Linked DNA regions of Homo sapiens: region 2 is linked to region 1. The links come from fine-mapping of genetic effects on gene expression. A gene starts in region 1. The other region holds a variant in brackets. All regions are shown on one strand. Distances are between the middles of the regions.

Evidence for each region. PIP is the estimated chance that this variant, and not a neighbour inherited with it, causes the effect.
Region 2: its variant is fine-mapped to the expression of ABT1 in whole blood (INTERVAL, PIP above 0.99).

The regions. Positions count from the first base shown.
Region 1 is chr6:26,595,659-26,598,575 of GRCh38, forward strand. ABT1 (activator of basal transcription 1) reads left to right here and starts at 1,295. Exons shown (of 3, transcript NM_013375.4): 1 at 1,295-1,565; 2 at 2,256-2,452; 3 at 2,607-2,917. The coding sequence starts at 1,325. RefSeq lists enhancers at 177-326, 427-586, 1,144-1,583.
Region 2 is chr6:26,642,997-26,645,913 of GRCh38, forward strand. ZNF322 (zinc finger protein 322) reads right to left here. Exons shown (of 4, transcript NM_024639.5): 3 at 663-732. Among named protein-coding and RNA genes, the nearest start is that of ZNF322, 15 kb to the right of the region's middle. The variant G/A (reference allele first, on the strand shown) is at 1,422.

The DNA.
Region 1 (2,917 bases):
AATATACTTGGGGACTGGCAAAAACTGTCATCTCTGATTTTAATAGTGGACACATTTACTCCCTGCTTCCATTCTCTGGGCTACTCTGCGCTCTTGGAGCGAGATGGGAAATTTTGTCAGGCCGCAGCAAGGACGGATTTATGTTGATAGTCATCAAACTCGCCCCGGGCTGCTTCCAGAAAGCTAACCGGATTACTTGTACGCGGTTCCCAGCACTGTCCTTTGCAGTCAGCTTGTCGCTGGCGCCGATGGGAAGAACTGAAACGCCTCAAGGGTGGGGACGGCGCCCCCTGCTGGTCGCGCCCTCGGGCGACGATAAGAGACTGAGGACCCGAGCCCGCGCGGGGAAAACTGCCCTGAGCTTGGCTTAGGGATGGTCCGCAGGCCGCCTGGTGGGAGCAGGACCGCCGTGGCCCGGTCCGTTCTGCGGTTGCGTAGGTCATAGAAGGAAAAGTGGTTTGTGATCTGATAGGGAATCTGAGGACAGACCCAGGGAGAGCAGAAATAAGCGCGCCGCCGGGGGGTCGCCAGAATTGGAGGCTTGTGCGCCTCTGACAAGTATTTGCAACATAAGTATGCATATGGATAATGTATCAATACACACGTGTAATAGATGCCAAACAAATTCTTCAAATAATTGTCACACATTTAAATTTTCAGACATTCACAAAATCAAATGTAAAATATTAAACTGAAAGTTCACAACTTAAATTTTCAAAAATTAAATCTAATTAAATTTCCAAAGTTGAACTGTTTTCAAAATTAAATTTTAAAATATTCAAAATTCCGAGGTAAATTTCCAGAAATAGTTAAAACCTCAAAACTCAAAATTTTTAAATGAAATTTATAAACTTTAAAAGGTGAGTCATTCCTCAGCTGGAATCGCACCCGGGGCCCTTGAATAAAATGCTATTTTGATCGCTAGAACACATAGAAACTTCTCTAAAATTGTTCTGCAAAATTCCCTAAAAAGCCGGCATCAACCCGCCTTTTAGCGTCTCGACAAGGCGTTCTATAGGGTAGGTTATATTTGGGGATCTGCCTTTTCTGGTTCTGCCTGTCCTGAGTTGGAGATCTGACCGGGAATCTGAGCCTAACCCAAGTTTCCCATCCCGCTTCCACGCTCTGAATCAGGCTTCCGACCTGACACACCACTTCCTCCCTCTCCCCTCGGCCTTCCCCTGGACCCGACTGTATTGCCCAATCATTTCCTTTCATTTGTCATCACCACCTTGGACCCGCCCCCTCGTCTCAGGCCGTCGCACGCGTTTTGCGTCAGTTGGCAAGGCACTTTACGGCCGTCGTGCCGCTCGTGTCAGTCAACATGGAGGCAGAGGAATCGGAGAAGGCCGCAACGGAGCAAGAGCCGCTGGAAGGGACAGAACAGACACTAGATGCGGAGGAGGAGCAGGAGGAATCCGAAGAAGCGGCCTGTGGCAGCAAGAAACGGGTAGTGCCAGGTATTGTGTACCTGGGCCATATCCCGCCGCGCTTCCGGCCCCTGCACGTCCGCAACCTTCTCAGCGCCTATGGCGAGGTCGGACGCGTCTTCTTTCAGGCTGAGGGTAAGTATGCAGGCCCTGACGGTGACAGGAGGAGGTTGTCGCTCGCTGGCGGGGTGCAAGCATGCATGTCCTGTTGCTTCGCTGCGCGAGGCTGAGGCACGAGTTGCTGGATTTTGGGGGTGGGGAGTGCGGTGCTTGGCTCCTGGCTGGTGAATCAGTCTGTGAGGATGCTGGGGTGGGCGGGCGGAGGGGATATGGGGAGAGTGGGTAGCGCAGTGTGTCTGGTGGTTCTTTAGTTCTCGGATTGTTACTATTTGTGTTCTTATCCCGGCTCTGTTCACCTCTCTTTCCGGACCTGTTTACTGGTTTGTTACATGAATACAACCTGAGTAAAAGTCTCGTCAGCTTTTCTACAAAACTGAACATAACTCTTTAGCATTGCTGCCTAGGTCAAGAAACTATTTGATCAACCGCCCCTCTTCTTTCCACCCTCAATTTTACATTGAGGCTGAGGACTTGTGCCGGTTTTAAGCAGCGTTCAGGGCTGGCCAGATTAAGGAGTGGACAATTAAGGAAAGAATTGAGTTAGCTAGAGGAAAGGGTGCGATTTACAGTTCCCTTCCTCCTGGGCAAAAACTCTTCAGGTGGGACTCCCACTGGCAGATGTGAAGAACGTTGCGGGCAGTGGGAGGTGCTTTTGAGTGAGTGCTGCATAGGCGTCCTGGACGGGTCTTTGTCTTTGGCGCGCAGACCGGTTCGTGAGACGCAAGAAGAAGGCAGCAGCAGCTGCCGGAGGAAAAAAGCGGTCCTACACCAAGGACTACACCGAGGGATGGGTGGAGTTCCGTGACAAGCGCATAGCCAAGCGCGTGGCGGCCAGTCTACACAACACGCCTATGGGTGCCCGCAGGCGCAGCCCCTTCCGTTATGATCTTTGGAACCTCAAGGTGAGAAGATAGATCTTTCTGCCACACCTCTCACCCTCCCTTCTCCCCAACTCTGGCCCAAGTATCCCCATGGCCTCTCATTGGCCTTGTCCCCTTGTCTCATCTTTCTCCCTAATCTGCACTATCCTGATCTTTTCTTCTTTTCTGCCCACAGTACTTGCACCGTTTCACCTGGTCCCACCTCAGCGAGCACCTCGCCTTTGAGCGCCAGGTGCGCAGGCAGCGCTTGAGAGCGGAGGTTGCTCAAGCCAAGCGTGAGACCGACTTCTATCTTCAAAGTGTGGAACGGGGACAACGCTTTCTTGCGGCCGATGGGGACCCTGCTCGCCCAGATGGCTCCTGGACATTTGCCCAGCGTCCTACTGAGCAGGAACTGAGGGCCCGTAAAGCAGCACGGCCAGGGGGACGTGAACGGGCTCGCCTGGCAACTGCCCAGGACAAGGCCCGCTCCAACAAAGGGCTCCT
Region 2 (2,917 bases), 47 kb after region 1:
ACCACTCTTATTTCTTACTTTCACAATAGCCCAAGAGGCCCACTTGAGCTGCCCTGCTAGCCTGTCACTGCCTCTCTGACACCCTTTTATATTATTCTTCTCTTTGCATGTTCTAATCCAGCCGCAATGGCTTCCTAGCTGTTCCTCATCCAAACATACTATCCTTAGGGCCTTTGCCCTTTCTTTCTTCTGCCTACAGCTTTCTTCCTCCAGATGTGTGTATGAATTTCTCTTAATTCCTTCAAAGACTATTTTTTCAGATGTCAATTCTGAGGAAGGCCTTTCCTAACCACTCTGTTTAAAGTTGTGAATAGTCTTCATGCCCCAGCATTCACTATTCCCCTTTTCTGCTTTACTTTTCTTCATGGCACTTAAAACCTTCTAACATACTATATAATTCACTTTATTCAGTTTATTGTCTATTGCTAAAATATGACAAGGATGTCTGTTTTATCTTTCCTTACCATATACAGTAATGCCAGGTACAAAGTTGGTGCTTAATAAGCATCTGCTGAGTACATGTATGAATTCTCATTGAAATTCTACTTCTCTCCTTGTCTGATAAAAGGACTGAATGTCACAAAGAATGGGAGGTACTCTGATGAGATGGAGTCTGGGAAAGAGAAGGGATACTTCAAAATACTGAAGTAACTGCAGCTTACCTAGAATCCAGATGGAAGAAAACATACATTCCTGATCCTGACAATTTGACTTCTCAAAGAAGATAGCATTCTGTAAAACACAAAGACAAGGATAAAAAGCCATAAATGAGAGAATTTAGCACTAGATCATTTACACTCAAAGGATTTAACAATGGGTAAACTACAGTTAAAAAGAACAGATGGGTTTTCTTATCTAATCCCTTAAATTCAATTCTGTAGAGTCTTAAATCATCCCATATGACTCTTTAGAGAAAAGGACAATACAGAATCTATAACCCATCTGCACAATCTATAGCTTCCTTTGCAACTATAACAACATTGAAGGAAAGGGCTCCTAACACTAAATCTTGGTGGTATCTTGAAAACACGAAGGCATTATCTTCCCTACAGGAACTCAGGCTGTCCTGATCCAAAGTGTAATAGGGACTACAAAGTATTTTTGGGATTATAACAAAATTACCACCTTACCACCACTGCAACCCACGTAATCATCACAATTTTGGTAATTCAAAATTTATAACACCCTAAGCTGATTTATATTTCAACCACAAACAACCCAGGAGGTGGTCAATTAGGGGCACAAAAAGAAGTTAGAGAGTCCACACTTAACCATTGATGTCTTTCTCTAGAAGTTTTAACCTGCCTTATCCTTAGGTTAATGGGACTTGCAGTTCCCTCAACAACCTTCCTGCTACTGAGGATCAGAAGCAAAAATGGAACTACTTGGACCCAGGCAACATATAGGGCCATACAGCTGAG[G/A]CTCTCTATGACACTTAGCTTATAGCTGCTAGTATTAAAATGACATGTTTTATGGCTCTAGTTCCAGGTAAGATGGAGTAAATACATGTCACAGATGTCATCCCATTGAATCCAACTATGAAGTCTGGACAGAATGTATGGCCCAGTTATTTGACAACTCCAAAAAGCACATAGCATGCAAGTCAGGAAAGAGCAGAATTTTAAATGCCATTCAACCAGCAGTGATTTTATTTCTTTTTTTTCCCCCTTTTGGTCCTCTTCAGTATGGGGCCTAAGCTCGGTGTAGCCCTAAATATAGAAGTGAGGGAAGTTGTAAAACGTAATTGTCAACTGAGACTTCTCAGAAAACCTGTAAGTTTTCACACCATTTATTTATTTATCTATTTATTTATTTATTTTTATTTTAAGTTCCAGGGTACCTGTGCGGGATGTGCAGTTTTGTTACATAGGTAAATGTGTGCCTATGTAAACATGTGCTATACCTATCAACCCATCACCTAGTTATTAAGCCCACCATGCATTAGCTATTTTTCCTGATGTTCTCCCTCCCCCCGCACCTTGCTACAGTCCCAGTGTGTGTTGTTCCCCTCCCTGTGTCTAACTGTTCACATTGTTCAGCTCCCACTTATAAGTGAGAACATGCGGTGTTTGCACACCAATTATTTAAAATTGGCCATGGAAGTCAGTGGACAGAAAACTGACTTAAATATGAAAAAAAAAAGGAAAATATCTCTAGAGGAAATATAAAGAATGTGGTAATAAAACACAGTCAGAGGGGATAACAGTGGCTACAGAAATCCAAATCTCTCAACACATCCTTTAAAAGCAGTAAGAATAAGAAGAACAAATGTACTATACAAAGCCCACACTGTCACCAAATCCCATATAGCTGTCTCTCACATTCTAGCCATAAGCTATCAAGGAGAGCAAGGACAATCTGAGAATGAGAGGTAAAGAGAAGAGAGCTAGCAGTGGGCAAGACTGACCTAAAATTCATTGCCAGAAAGAAAAACCCACTCTAAGTACAAAAAACTTTATCACAGTAAGTATGTATAGAAAAAAAAAAGCCATTTAGGGTTCAATACTATCTGCAGTTTCTGGTATACACTGGGAGTCTTGGACCATATCCCCCACAAATAAGGTGGGATTACTATATTGTATTTATGGCAGGTGAGAATTAAAGTACACTATTAAACTAAAAAACCATCTGAAGCTGAAATGGCCTTTTAGAAAAGAAAAATTTTAGAAACCCTTAAAAACCAAATAATTAAAGGTTAAATATAAAAATTTATTTTTTTAATGAACTAAAGGCATTAAAAAAGATCTAAGTATGGTCAGGTGCGGTGGCTCACGCCTGTAATCCCCGCACTTTGGGAGACCGAGGCAGGCGGATCATATGAGGTCGGGAGTTCGAGACCAGCCTGACCAACATGGAGAAACCCTGTCTCTACTAAAAATACAAAATTAGCCGGGTGTGGTGGCACATCCCTGTAATC